Linked DNA regions of Homo sapiens: region 1 is linked to region 2. A link means that fine-mapping ties the variant in region 2 to the expression of a gene that starts in the linked region. Tissue or cell type: whole blood. Region 2 holds a variant in brackets; the other region holds the start of a gene. All regions are shown on one strand. Distances are between the middles of the regions.

Region 1 (8,174 bases), 22 kb before region 2:
CCCCTGCAACTTCAGAAAACTGTACCATTTTATACTCCAAGCAGCAGCATTTATTTGTGTATTTTCCCCAAGGCTTTCTTTATTTTAATTTTTTTTTTTTTTTTGAGACTGAGTCTTGCTCTGTCACCCGGGCTGGAGTGCAGTGGCAGGATCTCGGCTCACTGCAACCTCCGCCTCCCGGGTTCAAGCGATTCTCCTGCCTCAGCCTCCCGAGTAGCTGAGATTTCAGGCACCCGCCACCATGCCTGGTTAATTTTTGTGTTTTTAGTAGAGATGGGGTTTCACCATGTTGGCCAGGCTGGTCTCGAACTCCTGTCCTTAAGTGATCTGCCCCCCTCAGCCTCCCAAAGTGCTGGGATTACAGGTGTGAGCCACCACACGTGGCCTAATTTTTTTTTTTTAAATAATAGAGACAAGGTCTCGCTATGCTGCCCAGGCTGATCTCAAACTCCTGGACTCAAGCAATCCTCCTGCCTTGGCCTCCCAAAGTGCTAGGATTATAGGAGTGATCCACTATGTCCAGCCTCCAAATCCTTTCTAAACACTAGGACTTTTCATGAAAAGAAAAAAGCTATGCCAGTTAGACACACACAGAAATCTCATGATTTTATTTTGAATTTCTTTGACTAAATTGAACTTACAAATAAGTTTATTATGGCCAGGCGTGGCAGTGCACACCTGTAATCCCAGCACTTTGGGAGGCTGAGGCGGGCAGATCACTTGAGCTCAGGAGTTCAAGACCAGCCTGGCGAACATAGTGAGACCTCATCTCTACAAAAAATACAAAATTAGCGGCCGGGAGTGGTGGCTCACGCCTGTCATCCCAGCACTTTGGGAGGCTGAGACAGGTGGATTGCTTGAGCCAAGGAGTTTTGAGGCCAGCTTGGGCAATGTGGTGAAACCTGTCTCTACTAAAAAATAAAATAAATAAATAAATAAATAAATAAATAAATAAATAAATAAAATTTAAAAGAAGCTGGGCTGAGATGGGAGATTTACCTGAGCCTGGGAACTCAAGGCTGCAGTGAGTGGTGATTGCACCACTGCACTCCAGCCTGGGTGATGGGAGTGAGACCCTGTCTCAAAAAACAAAATCCAAATATGTTGATTAGCCATTTACATGTTTGTAGTTTTTTTTTTTTTAATTTCAGTGAATTGCCTGTTCATAGCTTTTTTCTACTTTTCAGGAGTGTTTGCATTTTTCTTATTGATATCTAATAACTCTTTATATCTGAAGGATATGAACGCTTTGTGATACAGGTTACAGATTTTGGGGTTTTTTTCTCCGCTTGCTGTGAGCCTTTTGGGTTTGTTTCCTAGCTCCAAATCTTAACTTGGTGTCAAGTTTCCTGGCTGGGAGACAAGCTTTTACCGACTTCCTCTGCTTGCCAGCAAAGTCATCTGCTAACTGGATATTGGCAGCTTCTCTGCTGTCTTGCAGCTGCTTCCGGAGTGGGTTCCACAGGGATTCCCGTGTGTTCTTGGTTCAGCTTGCAGAGGGACTTTCACACTCCCTGGAGACCGTTTCCTCCCATTCTGTCTGGAGTTTTCGGCCTACCCCAAGACAATGAGATATTCCTGACCTTTCCACCTATTTCCCTCCAACCCCACCTTCCGAAATACATTTGCTCAATACATTTGCACTTCATAGGCTTCTTTAGCTGTCTTCCTTTTACCCCGGACGGGATGTAGATGTTAATTCTGGAACAATTGCAGCTACAAGAATTTGTCATCCTGCCCCTTTTGAGAAAAACATTGTTTGCCCTTGGGTCTAAATCCTTCCAGATGGGATGGGATGTATCTTGTCACCTCCTTTTTCTTACTTAATATGAAAAGACCTTTCCTCATCAAGTCCACAGAGTGTAAATTTGTTTTTACCTTTTTTTTTTTTTTTTTGAGACGGTGTCTCACTCTGTCACCCAGGCTGGAATGCAGTGGTGCGATTTTGGCTCACTGCAACCTCCACCTCCTGGGTTCAAGTGATTCTCCTGCCTCGGCCTCCGTAGTAGCTGGGATTACAGGCGAAGCGCCACCATGACCGGCTAATTTTTTGTGTTTTTAGAAGAGATGGGGGCTTCACCATATTGACCAAGCTGGTCTCGAACTCCTGACCTCAAGTGATCCGCCTGCCTCAGCCTCCCAAAATGCTGGGATTACAGGCGTGAGCCACTGCACCTGGCCTGTATCATTCTTAAAAATTAAGTTTTAGCGGGGCATGATGGCTCACTGGTAATCCCAGCAGTTTGGGAGGCTGAAGGGGGAGGATTACTTGAGACCAGGAGTTTGAGAACAGCCGGGGCAACATAGCGAGACTCCATCTCTACAAAAAATTTAAAAATTAGCTGGGCGTGGTTGAGTGCACTTGTAGTCCCAGCTACTTGGGAGGCTGAGGCAGGAGGATCAGTTGAGCCCAGGAGGTTGAGGCTGCAGTGAGCCATGATCATGTGATCATGCCACTGCACTCTAGCCTGAGCCACAGAGTAAGACCCTCTCTGTGAAAATAATAATAAGCTGGGCGCGGTGGCTCACGCCTGTAATCCCAGCACTTTGGGAGGCTGAGGTGGGCGGATCAGGAGGTCAGGAGTTCGAGACCAGCCTGGCCAATATGGTGAAACCCCATCTCTACTATAAACAAAAATTAGCCGGGCGTGGTGGCGCGTGCCTGTAGTCCCAGCTACTCAGGAGGCTGAAGCAGGAGAATCGCTTGAACCCGGGAGGCGGAGGTTGCAGTGAGCCGAGATCGCGCCACTGTACTCTAGCCGGGGCAATGGAGTGAGACGCTGTCTCAAAAAAAAAAAAAAAGAAAATAATAATAATAATAATAATAATGTTCAGATGTATTTTTTAAAGTTTTTATTGTTTTTAAAAATAGAGGCACGGTCTTGCTATGTTGCACCACTGCACTCCAGCCCGGGCAACAAAGCCAGACTCCGTCTCAAAAAAAAAAAAAAAAAAGTGTGATACTAAGTCAATCAATTTGAAAATGCGGCTCTAGAGTATTGGAAAACAATCCCTTGACAGCGTTTCCATGAAAACATGGCCCTTGTCTCTGGAAGAGCTTGTGCCCAGAACGGTCCATTATCATGCCCTGGCTCTATTTTCACGCCAACCCTATAGGGTCTCTATGATCTCATTTTATAGATGGACAGACTGAGGCTCACATATAGCAAGCCCAAGGCGGGGACTGAATGTGACGCCAGGTCTGTGGACGTCATGACCTTTATTCTCCACAACCCTCAATGACATCCCTGTGAGATCCAAAACCAGGATGGCAAAACCCACGTTGCAGCAGAGGAAACTGAGGCTAAGGTCTCTTGGGTCCCAAACCAGGTCCTAAGTAGCCAAGTCCGCCTGGTGGCACAGCCCGGGTTTTATACATGGGGAAATTGGGCGGCGCATCTGGCGGAGGTCTCAGTGGTAGGAGGCGCCTGGAGGAAGCGCGGGTTCCTAACCCTAACGCTACCCCTAACATCCCTTCCACGCGCTCCGAGCGCTATGTGCCTTTAAGATCGGTGCGGGGGCGGGGCGTCCTGGGTAGGGCTGCAGGTGACGTCACTCCGGGCCTTGGGACTCGGAGAGCGTCTGGAGGCGGGGCCTGGACTTCACGCCCGGCGCGCTCCTCCCCTTTAAGGCGCGCGGCCGGGCGGGGCCCCTATGACCCCTTTAAGGCGCGGCCAGAGTCCTCCCGCAGAAAAACGACTTAAAGGAGACGCGTGGCGCGATGGCGGCGGCCCCACGCGCGGGCCGGCGGCGCGGGCAGCCGCTCCTGGCGCTGCTGCTTCTGCTGCTGGCGCCACTGCCGCCGGGGGCCCCGCCGGGCGCCGACGCCTACTTCCCCGAGGAGCGCTGGAGCCCGGAGTCGCCCCTGCAGGCGCCGCGCGTGCTCATCGCGCTGTTGGCGCGAAACGCGGCCCACGCGTTGCCCACCACGCTGGGCGCACTCGAGCGGCTGCGGCACCCGCGGGAGCGCACGGCGCTATGGTGAGTCGAGCCCGCTGTCCCCATCAGGCGGGTCACGCGAGCCCCTGCTTGCTGTCCCCATAGGGGTGGGTCCACGCGAGCCCCTGCCCGCTGTCCTCTTCTGGGCGGGTCCGCGCGTGCTTCCTGCTCGCTACCCCCATCGGGACGGTTCTACGCATGCCCCTGCCCGCTGCCCCCATCGGGACGGGTCCACGCGTGCCCCCTGCCTGCTGTCCTCCCATGGGGCCAGACACAGCCCTCCCCACAACACAAGCGGGACCGAGTTCCTCCTGCTGGCTCCTTTGGGGTGGGCTGGGCACCGCTTCTGCCTGCTGGACCCTACTAGGGCAGCTCCGGCCTCACTAACTGGGGCTCTAACTCCCTCTGGGGCACGTACACCTCCAAAGGACGGAGCCCAGAGCCCCCACTGGGGCGTTGCCAGAGGCCACATCTAACAGCAAGCCTTTCTGTGCCGGCTGCTGCCCTTAAGCTTGAACTCAGCCTGGCTCCAGGCCCCAGTCAAACCCCTGCCCTCAGACCGGCGTGGGTGGAGTCCAGGACCAGATGGCCCAGGAGGAAGTGGATGCTTTCTTGGTAGGGAATGGGGCAGAGCTCTGAAGAAACCTTTGACTGGTGACTTCTCACTCCCTGCCTCAGTTTTCTCAAATGGAAAATGGGTCCGGGTGCAGTGGCTCACGCAGTAATCCTAGCAATTTGGGAGGCCAAGGTAAGCGGGTCACTTGAGCTCAGGAGTTCGACACCAGCCTTGCCAACATGGCAAAACCCCGTCTCTAGAAAAAAAATACAAAAATTAGCCAGGTGCGGTGGTGTGTGCCTGTAGTCCCAGCTATTCAGGAGGCTGACGCAGGAGAATCGCTTGAGCCCAGGAGTTCGAGGCTGCAGTGACCTATGATTGCACCACTGCACTCCAGCCTGGGCTACAGAGTAAGACCTGCCTCTAAAAAAAGAAAAAGAAAAGAAAATGAGCGTATTAATATAATTCTCTTTTTGGGTTTGTCTCTGAAGATTATCCAGTTAATGGATGTGGAGCCCTTGGGTCTGGCATGGGCTTGGCTCTCAGTGATTTTATTATCATGATTACTGTCATTGCTGGTGTTATTGTCAACTTAATTTATTGGGCAGAATTAGCTTTTGGCACTACGGTCAAACTAAACTCCCAAATGTCGCTTTTCCTTCCACCTGATTTCTCAGTCTGGATAATCCAAATACACAATTGGTACTTAACAAATGTTTGTTGAATGAATAATTGACTGCAGCCCACTGAAGTGGTGTGGCTCACAGGAGAAGATGAAGGCAGGGTAAGGGATTTATGAGATATACTTTGAGATATACTTTTTTTTTTCTCTCAGACGGAATCTTGCTCTGTCGCCCAGGCTGGAGTACAGTGACACGATCTCAGCTCATTGCAACCTCCGCCTCCGGGTTCAAGTGATTCTCCTGCCTCAGCCTCCCGAGTAGCTTGGGATTACAGGTGCGCACCACCATGCCTGGCTAATTTTTGTATTTTTAATAGAGTCAGGGTTTCACCATTGTGGCCAGGCTTGTGTTGATCTCCTGACCTCATGATCTGCCTGCCTCGGCCTCCCTAAGTGCTGGGATTACAGGCATGAGCCACAGCGCCCTGCTGAGATATACTTTTTTTTTTGATACAGGGTTTTACATCTGTCGCCCAGGCGGGAGTGCAGTGGTGCAATCCTAGCTCACTGCAACTTCCCCCTCCTGGGCTCAAGTGATTCTCCTGCCTCAGCTTCTTGAGTAACTGGGACTACAGGCGTATGCCACTGCGCCCAGCTAATTTTTGTATTTTTTCTAGAGATGGGGTTTTGCCCTATTGGCCAGGCTGGTCTCGAACTCCCGAGCTCAAGTGACCTGCCCACCTCGGCCTCCCAACATATTGGGATTACAGGCGTGAGCCATTGCACCCAGCTGGTTTCTGATATATACATTTCATTTTTTAATATTTTTTATTTATTTATTTTTTGAGACTGAGTCTCGCTCTCGTTGCTGAGGCTGGAGTGCAGTGGCACGATCTCGGCTCACTGCAACCTCCTCCTCCCAGGTTCAAGCGATTCTCCTGCCTCGGCCTCCTGAGTAGCTGGGATTACAGGTGCCCGCCACCACACCCAGCTAATTTTTTGTGTTTTTAGTAGAGATGGGATTTCACCATGTTGGCCAGGCTAGGCTCAAACTCCTGGCCTCAAGTGATTCACCCGCCTCGGCCTCCCAAAGTGCTGGAATTACAAGCGTGAGCCACCATGCCCGGCCTAATTTTTGTATTTTTAGTAGAGATGGGGTTTCGCCATGTTGGCCAGGCTGGTCTCAAACTCCTGACCTCAGGTGATACACCCGCCTCGGCCTCTCAAAGTGCTGGGATGACAGGCGTGAGCCACCGTGCCTGGCCTGATCTATACATTACAAAAATTGCCGTGTGCGGTGGCTCATTCCTGTCATCCCAGCACTTTGGGAGGCTGAGGCAGGTGGATCACCTGAGGTCAGGAGTTCGAGAGCAGCCTGGCCAACATGGCGAAACCCCATCTCTACTAAAAATGCAAAAATTAGCTGGGCATGGTGGTGGGCACCTGTAATCCCAGCTACTCGGGAGGCTGAGGCAGGAGAATTGCTTGGACCTGGTAGGCGGAGATTGCAGTGAACCAAGATTGTGCCACTGCACTCTAGCCTGGGTGACAGAGCAAGACTCTGTCTCAAAAGAAAAAAAAAATTAAGTGACACATATTTGTTAGTGAATGTGGTTTGCAAGATCTTAGATGCTCAGTAATAAAACAGCCAATCACTAATGGGTCTTTCCAAAATCAGCTTGTTTAATCCTTCCACTTCCCAGTAAACTGGGTCCTGTTCCCACCCCCATGTTACAGATGAGGAAACTGACATGGAAAGGGAGAAATGGGCCGGGCGCGGTGGCTCACGCTTGTTAAGTCCAGCACTTTGGGAGGCCAAGGTGGGCGGATCACGAGGTCAGGAGATCGAGACCAGCCTGGCCAACATGGTGAAACCCCGTCTCTACTAAAAATACAAAAAAATTAGCCGGGTGTGGTGGCGGGCGCCTGTAGTCCCAGCTACTTGGGAGGCTGAGACAGGAGAAGGCGTGAACCCGGGAGGCGGAGCTTGCAGTGAGCCGAGATCGCGCCACTGCACTCCAGCCTGGGCAACAGAGCGAGACTCTGTCTCAAAAAAAAACAAAGGAAAGGGAGAAGTGTCCTGTCCAGGGATACATAGCTGGTGGGAGGCCAGTTGGGGATGGTGGTCCTTGACTTGCCTCACTGCTGCCTGGTCCTGCCTCAGTCTCCCCAAGTACGCTGCCTGTCCCCTCTCCCTGCAGGGTGGCTACGGACCACAACATGGATAACACGTCAACTGTGCTGCGGGAGTGGCTGGTGGCCGTGAAGAGTTTGTACCATTCCGTGGAGTGGCGGCCAGCAGAGGAGCCCAGGTGAGCATCTTTCCCCTGCTCCTAGTCTGATTGGGCTTTGCCTCTGCTCACACACCCTCTATGGCTCCCCATTGCCCCAGAACAATTACAGGCCCTCAGTCCCTGCCTCCAGCCCAGCCAGGCAGCATTAAGCTACTCTGAGCCTCCCTCAGCTTTACAAATAGGCCATAATCCTCTTCTCAGACCTTTGCCCAAGCCGTTCCCTGTACCTAGAATTCTTTCACTCCCTTTTTCTTCTGGGGACGCCCACTGCTTTGTTCCCTGGCTCACTGACTCAGTCTTGGTCCCAGCACTGGCTTTGCTGTTTATCTACTCCCTAAAGCCCTGGGCAGCATGGACTCCCTGCCCCCACCCAGTTCCTTTCTGGGTTTTTGTTTTTTTTTTGAGACAGGGTCTCACTCCCTCACCCAGGCTGGAGTGCAGTGGAGTGAACACAGCTTACTGCAGCCTTTAACTCCTGGGCTCAAGCCATCCTCCCGCCTCAGCCTCCTGAGTAGCTGGGACTACAGGCACATGTAACCATGCCTAGCTAATGTTTTTGTATTTTTTGTAGAGATAGGGTCTCACTGTGTTGCCCAGGCTGGTCTCAAAGTGCTGGCCTCAAGCGATCCTCCCACCTCTGCCTCCCAAAGTGCTGGGATCGCAGGCGTGGGCCACTGCACTGGACCCCACTGAGCTTCCTTCCTTCCTTCCCTCCAGTGTGCCTCGGGCTTTCTTCCCTCCAGGCCTTTGCACAGGCTGTACC
Region 2 (8,174 bases):
CGTCCCTCTAAAACTGGAGGAGCACGCAGGGCTGAGCTGTAATTGAGGTTGTCTAGGGATGATGCTCCCATCTCAGCCATTGCTAATGTGGGCCTCGCCCTGCACTGGGCGCAGAAAGCCCTGCCAAAGCCACTGCCATTCCCACCACTGCGTAGATGGAGACTGGGTGGGAGGGGTGAGGCCTCTGTCCCGGGGCTCAGTTTCCCCAGCCTTACCGATTTCTGAACGAGTCTATCTGCGGCTCCCCCTGGTGGCTCAAGATGGAATAGCACCCTGCCCTTTGTGTTTTGGGGAGACTTTTTTTTTTTTTTTGAGACGGTGTCTCACTTTGTCACCCAGGCTGGAATGCAGTGGCGCATTCTGGGCTCACTTGAAACCTCCGCCTCCTGGGTTCAAGCGATTCCCCTGCCTCAGCCTCCCGAGTAGTTGGGATTACAGGTACCTGCCACCACACCTGGCAAATTTTGTATTTTTAGTAGAGACGGGGTTTCACCATGTTAGCCAGGCTGGCCTCGAACTCCTGTCCTCAGGTGATCCACCTGCCTCGGCCTCCCAGAATGCTGGGATTACAGGCGTGTGTCACTGCGCCTGGCCTGGGGGAGACTTTTGAGTCTTTTTGAGGTGACACCTGGAGACTGCACAATCACTGGGGCAGGCCCCCCACAACACCCAAGAGTGGCATACTTAGGTGTCCAGGTCCCACCCGGCTACAGTTGGGGGTGGTGGGTCTCCATTTATCACCAACTCCCATCAGAAACGGGCCTGAGAAGCGTCTCTGTGGCTACCAGAGTTTTCCCAGTTTAAGTTCTCACATATATTTGTGTTGTCATTTCCTTTTTTTGAGACAGAGTCTCGCTGTTACCCAGGCTGGAATGCAGTGGCAAAATCACAGCTCACTGCAGCCTCAACCTCCTTGACTCAAGCGATCCTTCCACCTCAGCCTCCTAAGTAGCTGAGACCACAGGTGCATGCCACTACCATGCTCAGCTAATTTGTTAATTTAGGTTTTTGGTTTTTTTGGTTTTTATTTTTTTGAGATGGAGTCTTGCACTGTCGCCTGGGCTGGAGTGCAATGGTGCGATCTTGGCTCACTGCAACCTCCGCCTCCCAGGTTCAAGTGATTCTGCCCCACCTTCCCAAGTAGCTGAGTTTAACAGGCGCTTGCCACCACGCCTGGCTAATTTTTTGTATTTTTATTTTTATTATTTTTTGTTTGTTTGTTTTTTTTGAGACGGAGTCTCGCTCTGTCTCCCAGGCTGGAGTGCAGTGGCCCGATCTCGGCTCACTGCAAGCTCCGCTTCCTGGGTTCACGCCATTCTCCTGCCTCAGCCTCCCGAGTAGCTGGGACTACAGGCGCCTGCTACCACATCCGGCTAATTTTTTGTATTTTTATTGGAGATGGGGTTTCACTGTGTTAACCTGGATGGCCTCGATCTCCTGACCTTGTGAGCCACCTGCCTCGGCCTCCCAAAGTGCTGGGATTACAGGCATGAGCCACTGCGCCCAGCTAGTTTTTTGTATTTTTAGTGGGGACAGGGTTTCAGTATGTTGGCCAGGCTGGTCTCGAACTCCTGACCTCATGATCTGCCCACCTCAGCCTCCCAAAGTGCTGGGATTACAGGCATGAACCACTGTGCCCGGCCTTCTTTTTTGCTTTTTTTGGAGATGGAGTCTCTGTCACCCAGGCTGGAGTGCAGTGTCACCATCATAGCTCGCTGCAGCCTTGAACTCCTGGGCAATCCTTCTGCCTCAGCCTCCCAAGGAGCTACAGATTTCCCCTTTTAAAAGCACACAAGCCATGTGGATTAGGGCCCACCCTAATGACCTCATTTTAACTCGATGACCTCTGTACACAACCCTGTGTCCAAATAGGATCATATCCTGGGGTACTGGTGGTTGGCACTGGGGAGACACAGTTCACCCCATGACATAGTGCATGATCTCATGACATCTCTTTGTGAAACCTCTCAGTGGCTTATTGGCCCATTTTATAGATGAGGAAAGCTGAGGCCCAGGCCAATCAAGAATATACAGCATGCCATCATTTCTTGGTTCATTCTACAAGCAATTACTGAGTGCCTGCTGTGTGCCAAGCCCCTGTGTTGGGCACTAGGGGCCCAGTGTGAGCAGACATACCTGGTGTCCTTCCCAAAGGGCTCACAACAGACAGGCACAGGGCCAGGGGGTTAGGGCAGCAAGGATGCGAGCTTTGGTGGTGCAAGTCCAGGTGCTGCTGGGGCCCAGAGGAGGTGCCTGGCTCAGCCTAGGGAGGTGGGAGTGGGGAGGGTGACCCCCATGCCCAGGGCATCATAGCTGAGAAGTAACGTTACAGAGCAGGGAAAGGAAGGGTATTTCAAGCAGGGATCCAGCATGTGCAAAGGCCCTGAGGTAGGAATGGGGGTTCTTTGGGTTGGCAGGGGCATAGAGGTGGGGCTGGGGGGTAGAGTGAAGCTGGAGCATGGGGCGTGGCCAGGGCTTAGAGGCAGGGTTGGGGGCGGAGTGAAGCTGGAGCCCAGGGCGTGGCCACGGCTGAGAGTCGGGGCTGGGAGCAGGGTGAAGCTGGGGCCTGGGGTGTGACCAGGACTTAGAAGCGGGGCTGGGGGTCGGAGCGAAGCTGTTGCATGGCCAGGGTTTAAAGGTGGGGCTGGGGGGGTGCAGGGTGAAGTTGGAGCCTGGGGCATGGCCAGGGCTTAGAGGCAAGGCTGGGGGAGGCTGTGGGGTGAAGCTGGGGCCTGGGGCGTGGCCAGGGCTGAGTGGTGCGGCTGGGGGGCAGGTTGAAGCTGTAGCCTGGGGTGTGGCCAGGGCTTAGAGGCGGGGCTAAGGGCAGGGTGAGGCTGGGACCTGGGGCGAGTCCAGGGTTGAGTAGCGGGGCCTTGGGCGCGGTGAAGCTGGGGCCTGGGGTGTGGCCAGGGCTGAGAGGCAGGACTGGGGGCGGGGTGAAGCTGGGGCCTGGGGTGTGGCCAGGGCTTTGGGCTGCTGTGCAGGGTTCAAATGACATGGGAGGGGCTCCTAGAGGGCAGCGCTGATGTGGGCGGAGCCAGGTCGACTTTGTGGGCCGAGCCAGTCTGACTGGGAGCCATGGAGTGGGTGGGGAAAGCGTGTTGGAGAGAGGCTGGAGGCTCCTTACCCCAGCGACTCCTCAACGTCTGTGCCCCACAGTGAAGCACCCGCCCGCAGAGCCCTCCCGCTTCATCTCGGCTCCCACCAAGACACCGGACAAGATGGGCTTCGACGAGGTGAGCTGGGCCTTCCCTGGAGGCGGGGCGGGGGCTGGAGGGCCCTTGTTTGCAGGGGCTGATCTGGCTGGGGACTCTCCGGGCTGCAGGTCTTCATGATCAACCTGAGGCGGCGGCAGGACCGGCGGGAGCGCATGCTGCGGGCGCTGCAGGCACAGGAGATCGAGTGCCGGCTGGTGGAGGCCGTGGACGGCAAGTGAGTCCGAGGCCTGGGGGTGGGGGGGCGGGTCCGCACGTGGATGTGGGTGTAGACCTCGCTGGTAGACGGCAAGTGATTCAGATGGGGGCGGGCGTGGTGTCCAAACAGATGTAGACCTCGTCAGTGGGCGTCCTGAAGGGGAAGTGAATGGGACCCTGGGGAAGGGGCAGATCCTCACAGTTGTAGACCATGGAAGGCAAGTGAGTCCTGACCCAGGGGAATGGGTAGGTTTGCATGCTGCCAGTGTAGACTGGTGGGGACTGTGGAGGGGTAAGTCAGTCAGACCCCAGGAGAGGAGGAGAGCAGGTTTGCCCGCGAGTGTATACCATGTGCAGGTGAGTGAGGCCCCATGTGCCCGGAAGGGGTGCCAGTGCTACAAGAGGTGGACCAGCTGCTCAACGCCGCAGGGGGTGGTGGAATGGCCGGGGATGGCAGAATGGCAGGCAGGGTGAACCTTCTTCGTGACCCTCTCCTCCTCCTCTCCAGAGCCATGAACACCAGCCAGGTGGAGGCGCTGGGGATCCAGATGCTGCCTGGCTACCGGGACCCCTACCACGGCCGGCCCCTCACCAAGGGTGAGCTGGGCTGCTTCCTGAGCCACTACAACATCTGGAAGGAGGTGTGTCCTGAGTGATGGGCGGGGCCAGAGTTATGACTCTAGATCTCATCGGAGATTTGGACGGGAAAGGGGTTGAAAGAGTTCCCCAAAGCCCCGGCTAGGCATCCAGCCTCAGCCATGGGACCCATGGCCTCTCTTTAGTGAATGATGCGCCACACCAGCTGTATCACCCCCAGGTGTACCTGCCATCCTTCCATTGCGCAAATGTGGAAACTGAGCCTGGGGGTAGGGGTGAGCCCTTTTGAGCAGCAGGTGGTGTCTGGGGCCTGGGACCTGTAAACAAATCCTCATTACTCCCAGCCTGGTCTCTGTGCTTGATGTTTAGTACTAGAAGTCATGGCCACAGAGCCACTTTAAACCAGCACCTGCCCAGTGCTGCTGGGGGCACTCACCAGCCCAGGCATCCTCATCCACCCTCAGAGGGAGAGGCTGTGATTGGAGGAGGGTGTCTGACTAGGCTTCGAACTTGGGCCATCAGGGCCGGGCATGGTGGCGCACACCTGTGGTCCCAACTATTTGGGAGGCTAAAGTGGGAGAGTGGCTTGAGCCCAGGAGTTAAGGCTGCAGTCAGCCAAGATCGTGCCACTGCACTGCAGACTGGACAGCAGAGCAAAACCGTGTCTCAGAAAAAAGAAAAATGGCTGGGCGTGGTGGCTCATGCCTGTAATCTCAGCACTTTGGGAGGCCGAGGCAGGCGGATCACCTTAGGTCAGGAGTTCAAGACCAGCCTGGCCAACATGGTGAAACCTAGACTCTACTAAAAATACAAAAATTATCTGGGTGTGGTGGTGGGCACCTGTAATCCCTCTACTTGGGAGACTGAGGCAGGAGAATCACTTGAAC[C/G]CAGGAGGCAGAGGTTGCAGTGGGCTGAAATCATGCCATTGCACTCCAGCCTGGGCGACAAGAGTGACACTCCATCTCAAAAAAAGAAAAATAAAATCCGGGCGTAGTGGCACATGCCTGTAATCCCAGCTGCTCAGGAGGCTGAGGCAGAATTACTTGAACCTGGGAGGCGGAGGTTGCAGTTGAGATCGTTCCACTGCACTCCAGCCTGGGCGACAGGGCGAGACTCCGTCTCAAAAAAAAAAAAAAAGAAAAAGAAAAGAAAAACTTGTTATCGAATGTGAAGCCAAATGGGGGTGTGCGGCTGCAAGGCGGGAGGTGCATGAGGCGTGGGCATTTGAGGGGCTGGGAGGCCTTTCTCTTCTGAGATCCATTATGGACGGCAGAGGGCAGAGGTTTGGATGTCCAGATGTCCCTGGAGCTAGGAGAGGCAGGGAGATGCACTGGCTTCTCTACGGGTCTTTCAAACCTTCTCAAAGCAAAGCTCTGTGCTTTAGGGTCAGGCCTGGCCTTGGCCTCCCTGTGATGTGGCGGGGCTTCCTCCCTCAGGTGGTGGACCGGGGGCTGCAGAAATCGCTTGTGTTTGAGGATGACCTGCGTTTTGAGATCTTCTTCAAGAGACGTCTGATGAACCTCATGCGGGATGTGGAGCGGGAGGGCCTGGACTGGGACCTCATGTGAGTGGGGGTCTGAGGATGGGGTGAAGCTGGGGCCTGGGGCAAGGCCAGGACTTAGAGGTGGGGGTGGGGGCAGGGTGGAGCTGGGACCTGGGGATGGGTCATGGCTTAGAGGCGGGGCTTGAAGGTGGGGTGGAACTGGAGCCTAGGTACATGGCCAGGGCTTAGAGGTGGGGCTGGGAGGCGGAGTGGAGCTGAATCCTACGGGCGTGGCCACAGCGCTGCAGCTGAGCCTAGAGCCTGTATGTCTGGGTGTGGTCAGGGTGGCAGGCGTGGCCAACCCTTGGAAGCGTAGCAGGAGGGCTCACGTGGTTCCTGGGCCTGAAGGCACTGTCAGGGCTGTAGCCTATAGGGAAGGGCGTTGGAAGGATCACCCAGAACTCAAGGGACCTGGCCGGAAGCCTGCAGGCTTGGTCAAGGCTTAGAGACTTGACTGAGGCCTGTGGAGGTGGATGTGGCTAAAATTTGACCGGGCAGCCTGTGGGCGTGGCTGAAGAGCATGGGGGTGTGGTCAGAGCTGGAGGTGTGGCCGAAGAGTGTGGGGGCGTGGCCAGGGCGCCTGGTCTTAGACAAGCCCCTGGATGGGAGTGCCACCAACATGTTTCCAGCACTGGAGCCGTCCTTCTCTTCTGTAAGTGGGCTGGTTTGTCCTCTCCCTTCCTCCATCTCTTTTTTCCCTTCCATGTGCAGTGCCCTAATCTGCATTCTGGGAACACTGCCCCATGTGAATAGTAACTGCACCCCTCCATTCCTGACTGCCCCCCCATCAGGGCACCTCGCCCACCTCCACCCCCACTGTCCTCTGAACTCAGAGCAGCTTCAGCCTCAGAGAACGTCTGCGTGATCCTGCTCTCCCCAGCTCCAGATCCTCCATGGCTCCCTCACGCCCTTTGGAAAAACTCACTCTTCTCCCCCATGACCGCCAGACCCCTGGGCTCCTGCATTCACTCCATCCAGTCACAGAGCTCTGCAAACATGCTGAGCCTGCTCCCATCCCAGGACCTGACGGGGTAACTAGATCCCTGGCTTTCTGGGCAAGCTCCCTCCGGAGGGCGGGAGGAGAGTGACAGGCCCGATCTTGCACCCCAGCTATGTGGGCCGGAAGCGGATGCAGGTGGAGCACCCCGAGAAGGCTGTGCCTCGCGTGAGGAACCTGGTGGAGGCCGACTATTCCTACTGGACCCTGGCCTACGTGATCTCCCTGCAAGGCGCCCGCAAACTGCTGGCTGCTGAGCCGCTCTCCAAGATGCTGCCTGTGGACGAGTTCCTGCCCGTCATGTTCGACAAACACCCAGTGTGAGAGGGGCAGGCGGCTGCTGGGCTGGGGTTTCACGGTGGGTCTGTCCTGGGAGAATGGGGATGTGAGACTCACGGCCTCCGAGAAGATGTCTCTTCTTTTGCCTACTTCTCCCTCCGTTTGCCCCCTCGCAGATCTGTCTCCATTTGTATCCCCTGCACACTTACGTTTTAATCTGTCCCCGCTGACTTCTTCACCCCCAATTTTTCCTCCAGCTGTCCCGTCCCCTGAAGCCATTGCTGCCCCTCACTCCCCTCCTCCTCCCCCCAGGTCCGAGTACAAGGCCCACTTCTCCCTCCGCAACCTGCATGCCTTCTCTGTGGAGCCGCTGCTCATCTACCCCACACACTACACAGGAGACGATGGCTATGTGAGTGACACCGAGACCTCAGTCGTATGGAACAATGAGCACGTCAAGACCGACTGGGACCGCGCCAAGTCCCAGAAGATGCGGGAGCAGCAGGCACTGAGCCGTGAGGCCAAGAACTCGGACGTGCTCCAGTCCCCACTGGACAGTGCTGCCCGGGATGAACTCTGAGGGGTAGCAGCCAGAAAGCCAAAGCAGCCATCGGTGGCCCAGGCTCCACGTGCTTACTGAGGACATCAGGTCCACCTCTGGACCCCTTGGCAGGCCACAGAGGGCTCTCGTGTGGGGTGGTGTCCAGCCAGCTCTTGCTAAGCAATCACGTGCACACAGGCAGCATTAATGGAGTGCCTACTGCATGCCAGCAACAGGGCTTGGCCCTGGGGAATTGGGAGGAACCAAGCCCTCTTCATCTGTTCATGTGCCCAGCATTTATTAAGCACCTGCTGTATGCAAGGTTCCCATGTTACGGCAGTGAATGAGGCATAATTGTTCCCTCCATCAGCGATTGATTCAGTCATCAAGCAGTTACTGATCAGATTAAGAATCAGGCACTAGTGATACACATTCATTTTTAAAATTCATTCAAGGATTTATTGAGTGCCTACTGTGTGTTGGGTGCCATTCCAGGCTCTGGGATTTTTTTTTTTTTTTTTTTAAGAGTAGAGTCTGTCTCTGTCACCCAGGCTGGAGTGCAGTGGTGTGACGGCTCACTGCAGCCTGCGCCTCCCAGCGTCCAGCAATTCTTGTTTCTCGGCCTCCCAAGTAGCTGGGACTATAGGTGCGTGCCATCACATCTGGCTAGTTTTTGTATTTTTAGTAGAGACGGGGTTTCACCATGTTGGCCAGGCTGGTCTCGAACTCCTGACCTCAAGTGATCTGCCCGCCTTGGCCACCCAAAGTGCTAGGGTTACAGGCATGAGCCACTGTGCCCAGCCC

Evidence for each region. PIP is the estimated chance that this variant, and not a neighbour inherited with it, causes the effect.
Region 1: it holds the start of COLGALT1, and the variant in region 2 is fine-mapped to the expression of COLGALT1 in whole blood (TOPMed, PIP above 0.99).

What each region holds. Positions count from the first base shown.
Region 1 is chr19:17,551,993-17,560,166 of GRCh38, forward strand. It overlaps COLGALT1 (collagen beta(1-O)galactosyltransferase 1), which reads left to right and starts at 3,657. Exons shown (of 12, transcript NM_024656.4): 1 at 3,657-3,981; 2 at 7,319-7,429. The coding sequence starts at 3,722. It overlaps NIBAN3 (niban apoptosis regulator 3), which reads left to right. Exons shown (of 15, transcript NM_001321827.2): 15 at 1-1,648. RefSeq lists a silencer at 3,735-3,824.
Region 2 is chr19:17,574,036-17,582,209 of GRCh38, forward strand. COLGALT1 (collagen beta(1-O)galactosyltransferase 1) reads left to right here. Exons shown (of 12, transcript NM_024656.4): 7 at 3,160-3,236; 8 at 3,326-3,432; 9 at 3,922-4,054; 10 at 5,447-5,574; 11 at 6,664-6,870; 12 at 7,142-8,174. The coding sequence ends at 7,409. Among named protein-coding and RNA genes, the nearest start is that of COLGALT1, 22 kb to the left of the region's middle. RefSeq lists enhancers at 5,861-6,070, 5,905-6,199. The variant C/G (reference allele first, on the strand shown) is at 4,898.